3 linked regions of the Homo sapiens genome follow. The protein of the gene in region 3 interacts with the protein of the main gene of each other region in a pairwise test. Each region holds a gene or a part of one and is shown on either strand. Other genes may lie near its edges.

The links. The genes of interacting proteins can lie anywhere in the genome.
Region 1: the proteins of TMEM65 (region 3) and SLC18A1 interact in binary tests that used the Homo sapiens proteins (3 or more experiments, as listed by UniProt).
Region 2: the proteins of TMEM65 (region 3) and IGSF9 interact in binary tests that used the Homo sapiens proteins (3 or more experiments, as listed by UniProt).

What each region holds. Positions count from the first base shown.
Region 1 is NC_000008.11:20,145,128-20,152,150, reverse strand, and holds part of SLC18A1 (chromaffin granule amine transporter), read left to right. Parts: intron 1-1,406; coding exon 1,407-1,485; intron 1,486-2,423; coding exon 2,424-2,475; intron 2,476-4,080; coding exon 4,081-4,144; intron 4,145-4,428; coding exon 4,429-4,548; intron 4,549-4,759; coding exon 4,760-4,893; intron 4,894-6,274; coding exon 6,275-6,388; 3' UTR 6,389-7,023.
Region 2 is NC_000001.11:159,942,605-159,949,919, reverse strand, and holds the start of IGSF9 (protein turtle homolog A isoform a precursor), read left to right. Parts: upstream 1-4,306; 5' UTR 4,307-4,347; intron 4,348-6,291; 5' UTR 6,292-6,465; coding exon 6,466-6,523; intron 6,524-6,768; coding exon 6,769-6,957; intron 6,958-7,315. UniProt on the Homo sapiens protein: Functions in dendrite outgrowth and synapse maturation.
Region 3 is NC_000008.11:124,320,691-124,327,713, reverse strand, and holds part of TMEM65 (transmembrane protein 65), read left to right. Parts: intron 1-292; coding exon 293-360; intron 361-4,338; coding exon 4,339-4,393; intron 4,394-5,566; coding exon 5,567-5,609; intron 5,610-7,023. UniProt on the Homo sapiens protein: Essential for maintaining proper cardiac intercalated disk (ICD) structure and function as well as cardiac conduction velocity in the heart.

The sequences.
Region 1 (7,023 bases), about 100 Mb from region 3:
TCCATTAGGTGCTTTTTATTTTCTGCTTGAAGTGCTCTCTTTTGGTTATTAAGGTCTCAGTTTGAATGTCACTTCCCCAAAGAAGCCTTCCCCAACCCTGAAATCCCAGATAGCCCTTCTGAGTTGCTCTGCTATATCACCACATTAAATTTCATGCACATAACTCAACACTTTTCAAAATTATCTTTTTTGTGTATTTGTTTACTTGTTCATTGTATGTCTCCCTCCCCTGGAGTGTAAGCTAGCTGAGGGCTAGAATTTTGTTTGTCTTATTCACCGCTGTATTCCCAGCCCCCAGAATACCTGACACATGGTCAAAGTTTGTTAAAATGAATGAATGAATGAATGAATGAATGGAAGAGACTCAGACAGGTTAAGTAAATTGTCCAAAGTCACAGAGCTAACAAGTCATCAAGCCATGGTTTGAATGCAAAATTTGGAGCTTTGTGTGGCTCCAAAGCCCATGTTTCCTGAACACTTCCCTCTACTGTCACAAAAAGCCATGTGTTCAGGACTTCAATTTACAAAATACTTTTGCATGCATTACCTAATTTGCTCCACATTGTAACCCGGTATGATATAATCATAGCTTTGCTTTTTCCAGATGTGGAAACCAAGGCTCAGAAAGGTTTAGTAATTAATCCAAGATCCCTCTCAGAGAAATAGAAGGGCTGGTAAGTAGCAAGGCAGGAATTCACTTCCCAGGAATTATGTATGGGTATGTGGCACCCAACCACACCACCTCTGAAGCTCACATTCTCACGCTGATAATCAAGGGTATTTTATACATGAGAACGGCTCATCAGGGCCATTCATTAGGAATCTAAGTGGGGAGCTGGAAGCACATTAAATGTACTGAGGCTAGGCCAGGTGTGGGGGCTCACATCTGTAATCCCAGCACTTTGGGAGGCCAAGGCAGGCAGGATTTCATGACCAGCCTGGGCAACATGACGAGACTCCATCTCTACAAAACAAACAAACAAACAAACAAACAAAAAAAAAACAAAAAAAAACAACTAGGTGTGGTGGTGTTCATCTGTAATCCCAGCCACTTGGGAGGCTGAGCTGGGAGGATCACTTGATCCCAGGAGGTCGAGGCTGCAGTGGGCTGAGATTGTACCACTGCACTCCAGCCTGGGTGACAGAGTGAGGCCCTGTCTCAAAAAAAGAAAGAAAACAAAAAGAAAAGTACTGAGGCTAAACAAAGCCTTGCTCCTGAAGAAAGGAGAGGTGTGGGGGTCCTATGGCAACTACTGTGGGTTTGCACAAAGGTCCCCAGATCATAAAACAAAGTGGTTTGGGGATCTTGGAAGGTTACAGGGGTGGACTTCAGTGTCTTGTACGAGACAAGGCATTTTAGAGTAAATTGGACATGTCCTAAGGTAAGGATCTGTGTCCTTCCACAGGTCTAGCTTTCTTGCCTGCCAGTGTGTCCTACCTCATTGGCACCAACCTCTTTGGTGTGTTGGCCAACAAGATGGGTCGGTATGTAGCCTCGGGATCTGGGACGAACAGTAGAAATGTAAGATGGAAGAGCGCCCGTTCCTGATCTTGGAATGATGAACAGCTTCCATACGGTTGAAAGTTTAGGATGAGTACACACCGATAAAAACTTCCCACTGGGAGGATGGGCAGTGAGTGAGTGGTGAGGGTGGTATGGAGAATGGATTGTCCTGAGCTCTGAGCTGATTGTTATAGAAGAGGCAGTGGATACATGAGGGGCACCCCTTACTTTCCATCCATTTGCTGTCCAGTTGAGGAGATAAAATAACCACAACAGAGAACAGCTATGAAAAATGCAGTACTTTGGGAAAGTAGTTTTCAAATTATGTTCTGTGGAATCCTAAGGAGTTCTATAGAGGCACCCCAGAGGCCACTGAGGAGGAAGGGTTGGGGGCCAAGAGCTATGAGTCTCCATTCTGTCCCTTCACTACAATAAGGACAGCTTTAATTTTATCTTTGGAGTTTAGCATCAAGATTTTAGAAGCACTGCCATAGGACATCAGAGAAGGAAAGAAGTTTGGTACTTTCTGTGTTTTTTGAGACAGACCTCAAGGACCAAATAAAATAGGACAGGTAGGAGGCAGTCTGAGCTGGGCAACAGCATGAGTTAAGTTTGAGGGCTACTTCTAAGGAACAAGTGCCTCCTGAGTCAGCTGATTCCTCCTGTAAGGGAAGGAAGAGTGTGTCCCACGGCACCTCCTCTGCCTTTCTATAGAAAAAGGGATGGAGCCAGGGGAGACAAGGAAAGGGCAGGGAGAGAGCTCATTTGGGTACAAACTGGTCATGTAGGGATGCTGTCCTCAGGTCCTAAGGGGTTGCTGGGATTAGGGCTGGTGGGACAGGTCAGCATGGCGGTGATGGGGTACAGGTGGAGGGGAGCTCTCCCCTAGTGGTGTTTGATGATGGCTTTTTTCTTCCAGGTGGCTGTGTTCCCTAATCGGGATGCTGGTAGTAGGTACCAGCTTGCTCTGTGTAAGTATAAGAAGACCTGGGGGAGGGGAAGGAGAGAGAGAGCGAGAGACAGACAGACAGAGAGAGAGAGAGAGAGAGAGAGAGAGGGAGAGAGAGAGAGAGAAAGACACAGACATTTAAAGACTAATTTCCTTTAAGATGAGCAGAGATGGCTTGGCAAGGACTGTCAGAAAGACTGTTTCTGAATAGGCAGGAATTTAGCACGGGGGAAGAGGCCACCAGCTGCAGTGGCTTTCCTTTGAGGGGAAGTGGGAAAGGAGAGGAAGAGGGCTGTAGGGCAGCTGGAGCCGGAGGTCTGAGGCTGTACATGTGGGCATATGAAGTGATACATGTTGGTATCCATTTCTGGGGATGGCAAAATGGTGCGTTTTATGACTTCATTTACTCATCCCACCCTGACAGAGCCTCATAAATCCCCAGGGAACCATCATCTATGTCCCAGTCTCTGGCACCAGAGGCTTGATAGAAGAAGAAAGAAAGAAGGACTTTTCCATTTCCAAGAATCCCCCTCAAGTTCTCAAAGCCTTCATTTCCTCCTCTCCCCAGTGGGGATGAGAAACACACAAACCTCCTAGGCCTGAGGGAGAGAAGAACAGGGCTACAAGGCACTGTAAACTGTGCTCAAGACCAGCTGGAGGTCCTGAGCAGGAGCATGGGATCCGGGTTCCATGGCAGGTTTTGCCACTTTCTATGCATGTGACTTTGAGCAGGTTACTTCATCTCCGTGTGCTCAGCATCCTCATCTATGTAGAGAGGGTTCTGATGGTGTCCACAGGGTTGTCAAGGTAATCCAAATAAACCACAGTGTCTGGCACATGGTGAGCCCATAGTGAATCTCAGCCAATACTATTGATAATTTATAAACATTTCTTGAGGCATGAACCCTAAAAATTGTTATCAGCCAGCAGCATCTAAACGGTATGCTAAACCCTTAAGGGGTGAGTGTCCTGGGGTAGCAGGTTTGAATGGCAGGTACCCAGAGAGGGAGGTAAGGAACCTGAAAAAGAGGGAAGAAGGGGTTTTTGTTGGGGGATTGGGAGGGCAATGGGAATGAGTCTCACAAGCTTCCTGACAGGGGACCCAAGCCACACCACCTGCCCCCTCTAGCTTACAGCTAACTGGTTGTTGGGGCCTCTTCTCTATCTTCTTTTTCCAACAGCTACCAAGTTAGAAGTCTAAATGAAACCTTTCAGTGATGTCCATAATGGAAAACAGAGGCAACTTTATTCCATGAAGAATGAGACCAGGAGTGTATGTTTAGGTGAAGAGGGGTAGAGGAAGGGGAGAAAGTATCCATGGAACAGAGGAAGACCCTCGTTAGAGCATAATGGAGCCAAGTCTGAGGTCCAAACTTGATCTTGCCACTCATTAGATCTGTAACTCTGGATAGAGCAATAAATAAACACAACAGCGCTGGTCAAGTTTTCATATCCTTAAAATGGAGGTATAGATTCTTTTCCATGAGAAAGTCTGAGAGTGCAGGAGGATGATGTATGTGGCCAATAGTGCACTCTGAATAAATGCATTTCATGTGAAAACTCTTTGAACCTTGCTCCCACCTGACCCATCTGGAGTCCTGATGACTCTTCCTCCTTCCCCATGCAGGTTCCTCTGGCTCACAATATTTTTGGTCTCATTGGCCCCAATGCAGGGCTTGGCCTTGCCATAGGTAAGAAGTGCCCTCAAAGAAAACAATAAGCCCCTGCATGTTGGCTTTGGGTCTGATGCCTTTCCTCCCCCTTTTCTCATCAGAGGAGGTAGGTGCAGAGGCAGAAGGATCAGGAGGGCAGCTGGCAGGGTTGTGGAGAGATGAGCTCGTAATTCCCACCTGGAACAGGTGTTAGTCCGAGGCAGAAGACAGCAGACAAAGCAAATGGACTAAATGGAGGAGGAGAGGCGGGGTGGTACTAACTGTGGGTGGGGCTGACTGTGTCCTGTTTGCTCTGGCCACAGGCATGGTGGATTCTTCTATGATGCCCATCATGGGGCACCTGGTGGATCTACGCCACACCTCGGTGTATGGGAGTGTCTACGCCATCGCTGATGTGGCTTTTTGCATGGGCTTTGCTATAGGTATGTTGGCAGGACCTGGTGCCCCACTTTCCCCTGTCTACTCTTTACCAGCTGGAAGTGCAGCCAGGAAGCTATCCTCCTAGGGTTCTGGAGATCTTTGACGCTGAGACATCCTCTGGGTCACCCACTGCCCCTAGCATAGTGTCCTACGTGGAGGATGCTCCATATGGAGGCTCCATAGACACTTATGACTTTGATGTATCCCTCCCAGGTCCATCCACCGGTGGTGCCATTGTAAAGGCCATCGGTTTTCCCTGGCTCATGGTCATCACTGGGGTCATCAACATCGTCTATGCTCCACTCTGCTACTACCTGCGGAGCCCCCCGGCAAAGGAAGAGAAGCTTGTAAGGAGCACCGACTGTTAAAAGAGAAATTCACTTCTGTTTCTTTCCATCATCTCTCTCATTCCCTTTCATCCTGGGCTGTTATTTCCTCCCTCTATTGCTCTGTTGATACTCTCTCTGCTTTGCCATGTTTCCCAATCCCCTTTCATCTTCATATTTCTTTTGTGCACTTCCTTAATTTCCCTTCTCTAAGTAACCACTTCCCTCTTTCTGGGGCTATCAGGAAGGGTCTTCAGTAGAGAAGGGAAATGGGGGCAGAGGACCATCAAAGACATCCTGTAGTTACTGTTCTTAGCTTGCTAGTTACTAGCAAGATGTGAGTTACCAAGTTAACTCCCTCATAAGTGGGCAGAATTCCATTGGCACATCCGTTCATCCACTCATTCACTCTAGTGCAACATTATCCTTACCAGGTCACTTTTTTTTTTTTTTTTTGATGGAGTTTCACTCTTGTTGCCCAGGGTGGAGTGTAATAGTGTGATCTCGGCTCACCACAACCTCTGCCTCCCGGGTTCAAGAGATTCTCCTGCCTTGGCATCCCAAGTAGCTGGGATTACAGGCATGTACCACCATGTCTGGCTAATTTTTTGTATTTTTAGTAGAGATGGGGTTTATCCATGTTGGTCAGCAGGTCACGTTTTTAAAAGTACAAAAACCCCAGGGAAGAGATCCATACCATAGGATTTTCTTTAATAAAGCACTTTCCTCTTACTGCAGCACAAACATCCTGAGGGCCTGATGGGTTTGGGATACCGACAGAGGCTGCTCAAGGGAACAAAAGAAGACATGAAGGTGTGATAGGGAGTGGTGGTGATTCCATTTGGCTTCCTGCTGTAACTTTCACTACCACTGTTAAATTCAGTTAAAAGCAAATGAGATACTTGTCCTGACAAGGGTTGATATACTAGGTACCCCGGGAGGCTGGTGCATGTACATGCAGAGGGTCCTATGCATGTTTCTTGAGTACTTAGCAATGCCAGCCTTGGAAGAACTAGTGGGAGGACGGAATGAGGAGATTGGTAAAAAAAAGATGTGCGGTGGTTGGCCGGGCGCGGTGGCTCACGCCTGTAATCCCAGCACTTTAGGAGGCTGAGGCGGGCGCATCACGAGGTCAGGAGATCGAGACCATTCTGGCTAACATGGTGAAACCCCGTCTCTGCTAAAAATACAAAAAATTAGCCTGGCGTGGTGATGGGCGCCTGTAGTTCCAGCTACTCTGGAGGCTGAGGCAGGAGAACGGCATGAACCCGGGAGGCGGAGCTTGCAGTGAGCCGAGATTGCGCCACTGCACTCCAGCCTGGGCAACAGAGCGAGACTCCGTCTCAAAAAAAAAAAAATGATAATAATGTGCAGTGGCTTCTCTTCTTGCCTCTCTCTGCAGGCTATTCTGAGTCAGGACTGCCCCATGGAGACCCGGATGTATGCAACCCAGAAGCCCACGAAGGAATTTCCTCTGGGGGAGGACAGTGATGAGGAGCCTGACCATGAGGAGTAGCAGCAGAAGGTGCTCCTTGAATTCATGATGCCTCAGTGACCACCTCTTTCCCTGGGACCAGATCACCATGGCTGAGCCCACGGCTCAGTGGGCTTCACATACCTCTGCCTGGGAATCTTCTTTCCTCCCCTCCCATGGACACTGTCCCTGATACTCTTCTCACCTGTGTAACTTGTAGCTCTTCCTCTATGCCTTGGTGCCGCAGTGGCCCATCTTTTATGGGAAGACAGAGTGATGCACCTTCCCGCTGCTGTGAGGTTGATTAAACTTGAGCTGTGACGGGTTCTGCAAGGGGTGACTCATTGCATAGAGGTGGTAGTGAGTAATGTGCCCCTGAAACCAGTGGGGTGACTGACAAGCCTCTTTAATCTGTTGCCTGATTTTCTCTGGCATAGTCCCAACAGATCGGAAGAGTGTTACCCTCTTTTCCTCAACGTGTTCTTTCCCGGGTTTTCCCAGCCGAGTTGAGAAAATGTTCTCAGCATTGTCTTGCTGCCAAATGCCAGCTTGAAGAGTTTTGTTTTGTTTTTTTTCATTTATTTTTTTTTTTAATAAAGTGAGTGATTTTTCTGTGGCTAAATCTAGAGCTGCTAAAAGGGCTTTACCCTCAGTGAAAAGTGTCTTCTATTTTCATT
Region 2 (7,315 bases), on a different chromosome or scaffold from region 3:
GTCCCCTCTACTTTCTGAGGGCCTGAACCCTTGTCCCTCTGGAAGGCAGTCCCTTCTTGAGGCTGGTTCTCTGGGCTTCCCTTAGGCCCTGAGCAGTCTTGCTTCCAAAAAAGGCCAGCAGCCCCCAATCCCTTTGATTCCTTTTATATCTTTCCTAGGAGGCACCACTGCAGGGATGGGGACTGACTGGAAAGGCCACCTTGAGTCCATCTTGCACATAAAGAGGCAGCTCATTTCTCATGTTATTGCAGGATTGAATTCATAGAAAGTAAACAAAAGGATGAATAAATAAAGGAATGAATGTATGATAGGCCCAGGGATTTCCCTGGAAGTTGGCAAAGTTCCTTCTTCTTACAGCCGATCTCTGAGCAGAGAAGGGTTGAGGCCTCAAAAGAGGCCGAGCTTCTGGAAGAGGAAGGATGAGATCTTAAAGAAAGTTGAATATAAACTCAGAGAGGCACAAGCCGCTACCTCTGCAATATGCCAGGAACTTGGCAAGCACTGGGGAGGCAGAAGAGACACCTCTGCCTTCAAGGAATGTTTTGTGGAGTGTGTAAAGATACAATAACAAGGTAGGAAAAGGGCTGGGGTGAAGGTGAGGGCGTGGTGGGAAAAGTCACGGAATGTGTCCTGAAGGGAACAGATCAACAGAAATTTGACCTGTGGCCAGCAGTGAGTCTGGAAAGGAGAAAAGGGCATTCTATCGAGACAGAAGCTAAGTGCTAAGACACTGGTATGTGAAAGAGCACAGTAGTTCTAAGGCCTGCAAAGTCATGCACACTGCGATAAAGGGATAAGTGAGAAACCAGGCTGGAAAAGTAAGCAGGGCCTTTCTGAAGCAGGAATTCAAAGACAAACAGGACAATATCCACACCCTTGTGGGGCTAAGTGTTTCATTGGGATAGAAGATAGGCACACAAAAAGTTAAATGACAATATATGAGAAACCGCACTTCTTTACGGATCTGGTAATAAGACTGCTGCTTACAGGCATGTGGTCAACAGAGTCCCTGGATGACAATCTTTTCTTTTCTTTTTTAACTCAGATATAACTTAATATATGCCTGATTAACAACATCCCTATTATCGATTATTAAAGCCACCCTTTCTATTCTAGAATATGGGATAGTTATGTGGTGCTTAATTGGTACAAGCAATGTTAACACATCAAATGTGGTCACTACTAAAAGCCCATGTGTTCCACCTTTCAGGGTTCATTTGATATCAAGTAATTCTCTGCTTATCTATAGACAATGAGAAACTTTGCTGATTAGGAACACCTGTGCTTAACGATGCCAAGCAGACATCTCTGAGGTCACACCATCTTCTTTGTGCAGGGCTATGGAGCAGCTCAGGTCCTTTCTTCCCAAGGCCTGCTGAAATATTAGGTATACACCAGGAAGACAGAACCAATAAGATAGATAGATACAGATATAGAAATATGAGATGGGATTTATTAGGGGAATTGGCTTACATGATGGTGGAGGCCAAGTCCTACAACATGCACAAAGAAGGCCCTGGGATGGCAAAAGTGTGGCTCAGTCCAACTCCAAAAGCCTCACAACCAGGGAGGCCAATGGTATAACTCACAGTCCCAAGTCTGGAGAGCCTGGAGTTTTGATGTTCAAAGGCAAGAGGAGGAGAATACCCCAGCTCTGAGAGACAGAGAGAGAGACAGAGAGAGAAAAGAAGAAGAAGGAGAAGGAGGAGGAGGAGGAGGAGGAGGAGGAGGAAAAGCAGCAGCAGAGGAGGAGGAGGAGAAGGAGGAGGAGGAGGAAAGAGGAAAGAAGAAAGCAGGAGAAGGAGAAGAAGGAGGAAGAAGAGGAGGAGGAGGAGGAGGGGGAGAGAGAGAATATTTTCTGATATCCTTGTCAGCAATTTGAAAATATGGGGGCTGCCTGATACTTAGGTTAGGTGGAATCCTCGTTGGTTGAATAAGCTTTCCCAGAGAGTAATGACTATGAATCAAGGACAACCTAGAGGAAAGTCTTTTGTTTTGAACCTCAGGGACTATTTTTTAAATCAGCTTTCACTCCTGGCACAGTGAGGGAACAAGTTATAGGGCTAGGTTCCTTTTCTTAACAAAAAATCTCCAATATACATATAAATCAGACAAAAAATGGCAATAACAATAAAAGTCACAAAATAAGTTTCCAGAAAAAAAAGGCCATATCATAAACTTTTAAAAATTGAAAACCATTTTAAATGTCATTTAACAGAAAGTTATTTTAATGTCTAAATGAGATTAGTTTATCCTCAAGAAACCACTGGAGACAGCAGTTTAGATCAAAGGTGTGGCCAATTCTAACAGCGGGGAGGGAGATCCTTCCCAATGATTGGTAAAGATCCAAAGACTAAAAAACACTTGGCTCGGCCGGGGGCAGTGGCTCACACCTGTAATCCCAGCATTTTGGGAGGCCGAGGTGGGTGGATCATGAGGTCAGGAGTTCAAGACCAGCCTGGTCAAGATGGTGAAACCCCATCTCTACTAAAAATACAAAAATTAGCCAGGCATGGTGGTGGCCGCCTGTAATCACAGCTGCTTGGGAGGCTGAAGCAGGAGAATCGCTTGAACCCGGGAGGTGGAGGTTGCAGTGAGCCGAGATTGCACCACTGCACTCCAGCCTGGGCGATAGAGTGAGACTCTGTCAAAACAAAAAAACAAACAAACAAAAAACCCGCTTCACTCTTTTACCATTTCTTCTAGCCTTGCTTCCATGCTGCATTCATTAACATGTTTCCATTATAGTCTTATCAATAGATCAGGGTATTATGTTGAAATGCATTGTTGAAAAGCTGCTACTTTGGGACTATTTGCAGGAGGGATGGTGGGAGAGACTGGCCCACTGCTCCTGCCTCTTCCCTTCCATCTCAGTCACCCAAAAGCACTAAAACCTTTACACCTGGAAGAACTGTCCAGCAGGCAGAGCTTACTAAGGATGGAATGGGTACAACAGTAGTGCTGAGCTTCCTGGCCCAGGATGTAATGAGATAGGGGCTTGGATGACTACATGGAGAAATGATGTGCCAGGGATTCTGGGGCCAAGTAGTGCTTAGGCCCATCCTGGAGGTTCTCTCATGATGCTGCAGCAGTGATTCTGTGAGTCTGATGCCTGGTGCACTCAGTTTGAGTCTTAGTACTTCGGATTGGGATGAGATCAGCACGTTGCTTTCATGGAAGGCTTCCAAGGGAGCCAACTGAATGGGAAGGACCTGGACAGGCAATGTTGCTTAAGCCGACCCAGCATCCCTACAGCATCACCAGGCTGAGGAGGTGGAATCTCTGAGGGGCAAGATATGCAAGATATCTTTGTGTCTGAGGGCGAAGCCTCCAAGGGAGTAGGTTTGATGAAGTTTGGGTTGGGTCTCAATCCAGCTCTGCCATAACCTAGTTGGGAAAGCTTGGGCCAAGTTACTTCATCTCCCTGAGCCTCAGTTTTCTCATTAGTCAAAGGGAGCTCTACTTACTTCGCAGGGTTTCTGTGAAGGTTACACAAGAGTTATAAAGCATCTAGTCCAGGGTCTGGCACCCTGCATGGGTCCAGTAAGTGATCTTGTATTTCATTCCTCCCTTTCAATCTCCCGTGTCAGGATATCTGTCGTTTCTCCCCTCTGGGCCTGTTTCTCTGGGTCGTTGGTGCCAGAGCTGCCTTGGGAGCTGACTTGGCAACCCCACGCTCAGAGCACAGCCTTCCTCAGCTGCACACGGTGGGAGGCGCCTGGGCAAGATTTGGGAGCTCGCCAATGCAGACAGGTATTTCCAGTCCTGCTAGAGAAGCAATGGGTGGAGGTAGAAATGGGGATGGGGGAGGAGATCGGATGAGCCCGGGACCTGGGTGGATCCCCTGGGAGGAGGGCGGGGAGTCATGCTCCCCGCCTGGTTCTCCTACCCCCAGGCTCAGATTTCAACCCTCGCTGCCGCCTCTGTGGCGCGCCCGTTCGGGGAGCGGAGAGGGTCGCCCGTAGGTTCCGAAAGAAGGACGGCGTACCAGTAGCCTGGCAAGGGGCCAGCTCCCGCAGCCCTGGAGCGCGAGCCGGACCCTGCTGCCCCTCTTGCTGGCGGCGGGAAGCGGCCCACCGGCCTTTCCACGCTTGGCTGTGCAGAGGTCCACGAGGGGGCGACCTGAGCCCACGTGCAGCCGAGCTCTTCCCTCCTGAAACTACAACTCCCAGGCCGCTCAGGGGTCCCGCCCGCCTCGCCGTGCCTCTGGCGGCTCCAATTGGCCGCCGCGGGAGGGGGATTGGCGGTCTCCAGGGCGACGGGAGGCGCTCGGGGCATCCGAGGCGGGGAGGCGGGTCCGCCCCCTATTGTGTAGCGGCGAGAGTGGAGCCGAGCGGTGCGGAGCAGGTGAGGGAGGGGGCGTACTGGAGGTATAGAAGTGGTGGTGCTGGTAGTGCGGAGTTATGGGGGACAGGAGAAAGCGGGGAGTTCTAGAGAGAAGTGGAATTCGTTGCAGGAGTAGAACTAGGGGAGTTCTGGGGAGTGAAGTGGAATTCTTGGCGGGTGGGTGGGAGTTCCCGGAGAACTGCAGGAGTTCTGGAGGCAATGTGGGGGAGTTCTTGGTGGGTTCTAAGAGAAAGGAGGAGTTCCAGGGGACCAGAGAATGCGAGGGAGAAAGGAATTGTTGGGGGTGGGGTATCAGAATTGTATTGTGGGCTGATGCAGGAGAATCCCAGGGAGGGGAATTATCGGGAGGAGAGGATGGGGAGAAGTGGCTGGGGGGTGGGGAGACCAGAAGGGAGTTCTTTATAGTGCAGGAGACCTGCTGCAATTGGAGATCAGGTGCGAGAAGCTGGAATTGTGGGGGGATTGTGCGTAGTAGCGATAACTGGGAAGGGAGTAATGGGAGGACGAGGGAGTGGTGTGTGGGGAGACTAGAAGGGTGAGGAAATAGTGGAGGCCGGGGGAGTTGGAAAGATATTAAGAGACTGGGAGGAATTCTAGGGATGCCTAGTTACTCAGAGTCTCGGAAAACAACCAGGAGAGAACTAGGGGGTTCCTATATACTTGGAAAAAGGTTTTTCAGGGAAGTGTGGGAGAGCTGCCTGGAGGCAGTGGGAAACAGGGGGCTTGGTTGCTAGTGAATTGCCAGAAGTTAGACATACAGGATCATTAAGTAGAGGCAAGGATCAGACTCTGTGGAGGATGTTTTATAGTCTGTCCTGAACTTTGCGGCCAAGAGTGGGTTGGAGGACTCAGAGCAGAGTCCACTTGGCAGTGCCAGGCCCTGGCATGGACCCTCTGGCTCTCTGAGACTGCCCTAGGATCTGTGGGGCTGTCAGAAGCTCCTACCCTCCATGCCCCAGGGTTAATTTTGTACACTTCAGGGACTCACAGGCTTTTTTTTGGACCATGCCTCTGGGGTTGGGGAAGAAAGAGCTTGACAAACCCTGGCACCCCGAAGATATTGGAGGGGAGTGAGTGGGAGGGATTTGGGTGAGGTCCTTGGGTGGTGGTGCCTGGCAGGGGGAGGGCTGCTTGGCAGTATCGTGAGGAAGTGGCGCCAGCTGCCAGCCCCGGGACCTGTCCAGACCTGGAGGATGCTGCCTGGATCCCCCATACTGGCAGGTGGGGGAGGCAGCTCCTCCTCTCCCAAGTGCCTGACTCACTCACTGCCAAAGCAGTGTAGGGAGACTGAATGGAGAAAGGCCTCGGGTCCTCAGCTTCCAGAGTTTTTCATAGAGGCTGGGGAAATGGGACAAGGGATTGTATCGGGGTGTCCTGGGGACCACTTTCTGAGGCTTAAGCGCCCTGGATTTGCCCTTGACTGGCTCTCTGCCCCTGAGCAGATATCCTCAGGGCCCTTATTTGTCACAGAGGGGTGAAGGCGACAGCACTGGTTCCATCTTGCTGCTATACCTTGTGAGCATCAAGAGTAAGGAAAGAAGCGAGAGCAGCCTAGGCCATGAGAGTCTTGATCTACCATACTTCCTTCAAAAATATTTTTCCAAGCATATGAGGAACCCCAGTTCTCTTCTGGCTTAGTTTTTCAAGACCCTCAGAATGCAGGCATCCCCAGAATCCTTCCACATTTCCTAAGACCTTCCCAACTCTCCCAGCCTCCCCCATTTCCTCACCTTTCTAGTATCTGCATTCAGCACTCACCATTCTCCCAGTACTCCTACCCCTGCTCTTACTCCCCAGGGCTTCAAGATCCCCCCCTTCCCCCTACCCCTCACTTAACTACACTCCTCCCTCCTTTCTCTTCCCAGTGCCTTTCTCTAATGGTGGGGTTTCTTCTGGGCTCCAGTATTGGCCAACTCTGCATGTTGCCTTGTACTTTTCATTTAGATCTGGTGGTTCTCCGGAGAGCAGCTTCCTCGGGTGTTACATGAGCCAAGCCCTCACTGTACAGAAGAGTGAGAGCTGAAACCTGTTCCCTGAGCTGATCAGAAGGACATCCCTTGGCCCCTCCATCTGGGCTCCTGTGGATAGGAGGGGCTGGGTGAGCAGGCCAGCTGGGCTATGGTGTGGTGCCTCGGCCTGGCCGTCCTCAGCCTGGTCATCAGCCAGGGGGCTGACGGTAAGCTGAGCTCTTGGGCTCAAGAATGCCCTGTTAGCCTTGGGGTGGGTATGGGGGTGTTCCTCAAGGGTTCCTCTTTGAGCATGTGAGGGCAGGGGAGGAATAGGGCTGGTTCTGGAGAAGCTGAACTGGGGGTTTCTCCAGTCACCCAAAGTCCTAAGGTGCCTACAGAGATACTGATGGCACTCCCCCTCCCAGCACTGACCCTAGCCCCCCGTTGTGCCCTCATGCCACCCATCATGCAGGTCGAGGGAAGCCTGAGGTGGTATCGGTGGTGGGCCGGGCTGGGGAGAGTGTGGTGCTGGGCTGTGACCTGCTGCCCCCGGCCGGCCGGCCCCCCCTGCATGTCATCGAGTGGCTGCGCTTTGGATTCCTGCTTCCCATCTTCATCCAGTTCGGCCTCTACTCTCCCCGAATTGACCCTGATTACGTGGGTAAGAGTTCTCCTCAGGTGGGAGGTAGGGAGGTATCAGCAAGAAAGGTGGGCTGGGTAGAGTCGCACAAGGCCTCCTATGAACGGCTTTGTCCCTGCTCTGATCTCATCTCCAGCTCTGCTGCCTTAACTCTGCTTAATAAGCATGGCTGTGCTCCCAAGCAGTGTTAATTCATTGAAAGATTCATTCATTTACACACACACACACACACACACACACTCACACTCTTATAGCTGTGCTATTTAGGACTCCACGTGGTCTGTTCCAAAGGAGATCCTGCAGCCCTATTCCAAATATCCATTCTAATTCTGTAACTGCTTTTTCTACATCTCATCATGAAACCTCCCAGACTTCATCC
Region 3 (7,023 bases):
ATATATTTGTGTGTGTGTGTGTGTGTGTGTGTGTGTGTGTGTTACCAGTAAGAAAACACAAAAGTCTAACACAGTTATTTTTACATGTTTTATACTTTTTCTGGTTTGTTTTGTTTTTTCCCAATATAGTTTCTACTTATAGCAGTAGCAGCATCTATTGGCTCTGGAAAATGAGAATCAAATTCTAGAGATTATCAAGTCTGTTTAGGATACTTTGATCATATCATCTGTTTTTGTCATTCTAAGTTATAGAAATCTTAAAATATATTTTTCTGTTTTTGATGTTTTTCAGTATTCATCCACAATGCGATACCTTTCATAGGGTTTGGCTTTTTGGATAATGCAATTATGATTGTTGCTGTAAGTTCTTTCTCTCACTGCTTCTATTTTGAGTTCATAAATTAATGTGGTCTACATTTTCCTAATAATTTTTCTATTGTGATTATAAAGTTTTAATATCATAATGAACAAGGATATTTTTTACTATATCTCAGACTATAGCTCAATTTTAATTAAGCTATATTTAATATTTATTAATCATTAAGACTTTAGGTAAAGCATTTAGACAAATAGACTTTTGGTAGAGCATTCAGACAGAACATTAAAGGCCTATATTGTCCTATTCTAATTTCAACATTCTTAATAAAGAAAAATAATATGTAAAATGTTCTGATGTTCTTTAATGGTGTTGGCAATTATCACATATATAGGTAATTATTTGATTTAGTTCCTTGTTCAATTTTCCAATGTGAAAATGTTTTAAAGCATGTTTTGATACATAGTCTAGCCTTCAGTCTAGCCATTGTTTAAAGTTTCAATTCAATTAAGTGACTGTATCTCCCTTTTGCCTTGTTCCATTGTAGTGTTAAAAAAAATTCCCCTTTGTTGTGGTATTTTAATGTAAGGGTGCTCCTTAAACCTGTTTAAGCTCAGAGATGGCTGACTTACCTTTCTTACTACTATATAAGGCCTGCTAATGGATACCAATATTAGGTTCATATTCTAAAGTCAGAAGTAGATCCATAATTAAAATGCAAGTCTTCAAAAACTGCCCAGTGCTCTGTTTTCAAGAACATACCAAGTGTTAGCTACAGCTTATGAATTTATCATAATGGGGTTTTCATTACAATTAGATTTGATTTACATTAATTGTTTAAATAATCTAGCCAACTCAGATTTTAGTAGTTTCCGAGAAGGCAGTGTGGTTCTAAATAGTTGAATAAGTTTCTCACATTCACAGATACATAAATTGGCCAGTTTTATTCTTATATACATATTATGAAAATGCCATAATCAGTCAAAAAACTATTCACTCCTCTTATTTTGTCCAAGTAAAATAGATTGATCACAGTCCAGTTATTATGGCAATTATCAACTTTCAATACATATTTTTAGAATACCTTATGTGAAGTCATTCTTTTCAGATATTAGCATTAGATTGAAGGTAATAGATCTTCAGTACATTTAGTGGGAGGAGAAAAAAATATCATATACTTTGAATACCAGTTTATGAGTTCCCAGGTGGGGTCTTTATTTAAACTTGTTTGAGAAAATCGAAGTGCTTCACAACTAGAAACTTTTCTCAGTTAGGACTTAGAGAGTTTGTTGTCAGTTTCACTGACTCTAACTTTTAAAAACATTTTGTAAATGATAGCTAAAGTGTAGGAGACTACTGAAAAAGTGGAATGACCTTAGGATTGTTGAATGTGAGGAAAATATACATGAGAGATGCAGGTTTTCTTTTTGGTGTTTTGGAGATCACGTGTACTACAAATGGACATAAATAGAAGATTTGGTTTCAAAGTAGGAATTTTAAAAGTAATTTACATTGTATAGATTATAAAATTTATGTAAACATGGTTTATTCAAGAATGGTTTTGTTTGCTATATAGTCTAGCCTTATGTCCAGATTGATGGGGATCAGCTACCAAACCAAACACCCACATTCTAGAGTCAAATTATTGTAGTAATTTGTAGTTCACTATTTGGTGTTCCCCAGGTCTGTGCCTCATTGTTAGTATAACTAAGAGTGCACTATTTTTCCAGGCCTGAGATGGCTGACTCCAAATTAGTAATACCTGTTATTCTGTTTCTATTGAAATCCAGTTTCAGGGGCTTATGGGCCATTTTGTTTATTTTTTCTTATTTTTTTCCCCAGCACATCCAGAACACAGAAAATCAGTTTTTATTTAAATAATACTGAAATAAATGTTTAAGCCACTGACTTCAAGTTAAGAGTAGTAGGTGTGGCAAAAATATTATCCTGTGATAGCTGCAAACTCATTCAGAGACAATAAAATTTTCCAGTGAGGCTTCGTTATATAGAATGCTGAGACTAAAACATATAAATAATGTAACTGTAGAATCTATGAAAGGGGAAATAAGTGATTATTATCTTAAGAATGTTTTTCATCTTTTAATTAAAAAAATACTGATCAACCCCTCTCATTGTGGGACAGCTATGACTGTTTTAAGATAGTAAGTTGAGGAGATAGTTGATTCTTCTTTTTTTTTATACCATAGACATTTGATGTTTTCCTCCTTCCTGTTAGGTGTACTTTCCCACCCTAGTTGTAGTCGTAAAAACAAATTCAAACAAAAACAAAGAGGTGTGTAACCTCTTGTAATAGATTTGGCCTTTATATTGGTTGGTGTTCATATTAAGCCTTTTGTTTCATAGTTTAAAAAATATTTTTATATTATTGGATTGCTTTTTATAACTTATATTTTAGGGTTAGTTTTGGGTTACTTTACTTACAGTTTAATTGGATAGAATTTATTAGAATTCTAGAGTAGATTAATTGTATTAAGGATAATGAACCAGGTATAACTTTAAGACAACTATTAGTATTCGGTTTATTTATAATTTCTACCTCACCTATTAACACAAAATTTGATGTAACTATGGGACACAGTAAAGAAGTGGATAGTCCATTGCCCCCAAACCATCTTTGACTTTATATGGGGCTTTTCCTGCTGTTAGAAGGACCTTCAGCTGTGTTACATTCAACCAAATGATTAAGCACTTAACTATTTTTTAAATGTATGTATTGCAAGAGATTCTTCTTTGGCCACTGCCAGCGATTCATTGCTGTTAAAGATGCCATATTTATTAGACTGTTGTTATCAGGTGCCTCTCTTCTATATTGGTGCTCCAGTTTTTTTGCATTCAGATATGATGATACATATGTTTATTCTTTTTCTCTGCCTGTTTTTACCTTTTCTTCCTCTTTATTTCTTCTTCAGAAATCTGTTTCTTGGGGTATATTTACAACCTTGTCATTTGAACTTTGTGCATCAGGACAAAAGACTTTTGAACTTCAGTGCATCAGACTGTTGGGTCCATATTCGACAAGAATTATATCTTAAAGTGATGCAGCCAAAAGCTCTAGGGGAAAGAAACTTGAGGAAACCTCTTTTCAGTTTTGTAAATAATTGATGAGTAATGCATTATTTCTACGTAAAATACAGGGCGTTTTTTTCCCTCCACAAATATCATTGAGATTTGAAGCATTTTTTAGAAATGTTCAAGCATCAGTATTCAAGAGAACTCTTGAAAATTAAGTCTTCTAATGGCAGCATTGCTCAGGGATTAGAATTGAATTAGCACAATAGATCCTAGGATTTCTTCTTTATTCTGTTAGAATAGTTTAATTGTCTTCACTTCAGTTCCTCCTCTTTAAAATGAAAGTAAAATATGAGCCCCTCTTTTCTTCAGAGGAATGATGATATACATATAGAAAGTCTTAAACTCTGTCATTAAATTCAGTGGCGATACGATGGGGCTTTGTTTTGAGTGTAGATCTATTGTACTAAATGCCGTTGCTGCTTATAAATTGAATGTATAGTTTCACTACTTAATGGTTCAAGAGCTAAGTGTTATAAGGATAATTTTATAAACCCCAATTTCCCTAGAAACTGGTTTAGTCTCCTTTTAATCTTTTGATAGAGTAAATAACAATAGTATAGATGTATAGTTCAGAATTTAAAATCAATGTGAGTCGGTCTTGTTTTCAAAGAGCTTTAAAGCATTTTTCTCTGTGGTAGAAAAATAGAAATTCTAGATTTTTAATGATGAACTATATTTCTACATGTGTTGCTAATTTTATTTTTAGAAGCCTAATTTGAATGAATAAAATGTTATTGATGTTATTTCTGTATGAATGCATATATTTAATAATTTAATGAATTACTATATTATATGTGCATATATGATGTATGTAATTTTGCAGCACTAACATGTTGATTTAACTTGTATCTGTTTTTATTAATGCTTTGCTATTCTTTTATAGTCACTTCAGCTTTAATTTTTAAGATTAATTTTTTATCATATTTCAGGGAACCCATATTGAAATGTCTATTGGAATTATTTTGGGAATTTCAACTATGGCAGGTATTTAACAGTAGTAAATGTTATTATTTCATTGTACACTTATAAAACATTTCAGTAGATTAAGTTTAGAGGAGGGTAATTTATTTGAATGAGTTTACTCATTGAGATATCTGTTAATTTTCTTCATCCTATTCTTCTGATTCTTAGTTTTGTACATGTAGCACTTTTTCTGAAAATTTTAGGTACTTTATATTATTAGTTATTGGATAACAATACTCTGCTATATTGATTTCGTTAAGACAAGATTTTCTGGCAATTCAGTGTTACCCCTAAACATTTCTACCCTTGGTCTCTTTTATTTATTTATTTATTTATTTATTTATTTAGAGACGGGGTCTCACTCTGTCACCCAGGCTGCAGTTCAGTGGTGCAATCTCAGCTCACTGCAACCTCCACCTCCAGGTTCAAGGGATTCTCCTATCTCAGCCTCATGAGTAGCTGGGACTACTGGCGCCTGCCATCATTCCTGGCTAATTTTTGTATTTTTAGTAGAGACGGGGTTTCACCATGTTGGCCAGGATGGTCTTGAATGCCTGACCTCGTGATCTGCCCGCCTCGGCCTCCCAAAGTGCTAGGATTACAGATGTGAGCCACCACGCCCAGCCTATTATTTATTTTTTATTTATTTATTTTTGAGTTGGGTAGAATTTTTTTTTTCTTGAGTTGGGTAGAAAAATCAAAGAAGGAAATACAGGATTAAACATCTGTCTTCTCTGTCCCATTTACCACTCTATTCTTCACAGAGGTAAAATTTGGGAAGAGTTCTATGTTGTATTTATTGTAGAAAGCATTAGGTAAATGAGTTAATGAAAGAAACATATTTTTCTCCTTGACTTTCTTGAATTTCATAGCTGTACATGCAACTTTACCAATTCCTTTAAATATTATATGAAAGATACTACAAAATATTCTACAATTAATATTGAAACCAAAATGGAAATTGGCTGCCATAACAAAAAAACCTACTACTTAATGGAGGTAGAATAGCATAATTTCAAAATTGTGTTCTATTTCAAAACCTTGAGAGTAAGAGCTGTCCAATGAGTTACTTTGGATATGGTTGCTGTTGTTTGAGAAATATGAGAACTCTTCCAAGATCAGTGCTTTATTGATTACATAGTGATATAATTATTATTCTTTTATGTAACAATTATTTATTTTTCAAATTTTTAGCTGCTGCTTTGGGAAATCTTGTGTCAGATCTAGCTGGACTTGGGTAGGTTCATTCACTTATTCATTTGTATATTCTGTACTTGCTGTCTTTCTGTTCCCCACTCTTCTTTAATTGAGAAGCATAACAAAAGAATATTTCATTTTTCTTTGTTTTCTAGAATTAAAATTTCAAATTTACTTTTTCTAAACTAATAGTACTAAATCTTTGGTATCCATCAAATATAGATGCCTGGGTGATATCCCAGTTATACATTATTAGTGTCTCTGGAGAGGGAGCCCTGGCAGTTGTGTTTAGTAATTTTCATGAGTGGTTCTGATGTATGCAAAAGTTTATTCTAAATTTACCATAATGTAAGCAAAATGGAATTTGTGTTTACTGAAGTATTTATATGTATTTTATAGACATCTCCAAGGGTAAGACAGGAGTAAAAGGAAGAACCTCTCTCATTATTCCACCTCACCCTACTCCCAGAAAACCCAAAGAGAAGGGATATGGCTCGAATTTGAGGATACTGACTAGACATGTTTTCTAGAGGGGGGAACTTTCAAAGGAAATAATGGCCAAAGCATATATGGGTTTGGCTGTTTTTTGCTCTCTTTACTTTATGTGGCAGGAATAATGAAACAAACTAAGGACATCTATTTAGAAAAGGCCAGCTTTCTCTCTCTCTTTACATTCTTGTTCCAAGTAGCAGATGGCCTGAGTTGCTTCCTGAGCTTGGGGAAGCCTGGGGGAGTATAAATTAGACTAAGTGGACATTATTATGATAAATATGCTCTGTCTTGCTCTGTCTTTGATTTTGTCTCTTCTTTCCTTGACTCATTTGAGTGTTACAATTTCAGATTTGAATTTTTTCTTAGAAGTTTACTTAGCCCTATAATCTAGGCAAAGCAGCTTTTTAAGTGATCTAACCTTAACCTTTTATATTAGACTTCTGCACTGGAGTTTGGGGCCAAAGCCACAGTTAAAAACAAAGTTTCTTTGTTTTAGGACCATGGCAAGAATTTTATATTCTTCGAATTCCTGGCATAAATGTATCATGATATCATCTCTTAAACATTCTATTCCCAGTTTCCAACATTAAAGTAAATAATGAGAATATTACAGTCATTGTATAGCTTTCTGATATATTTAATAGAACCAAATGATCTAAGAGATTTTAAAGCCATTTAGCTATATATTGCATCATAAAACAATTGTTTTTGTTTAGAGATGAAGATTTTTCTGGAAGTCTTTGTATTTAAAAACTATTTCTCTTCTCTCTTTTGGGGGGTATCATTCAATAACAAATACCACATTTTAGGCATTCTCAGATGCATTTTAACGTATCTGATATCAGGATCCATCTTATTGTTGGTAGTATACATAGTTTAATTAGCAATATTTTTTCTTTCTTACAGTTCATAAAGTAAGGATGTATCCAATAAATGATGGCAACTTAGAATTGATAAAATAC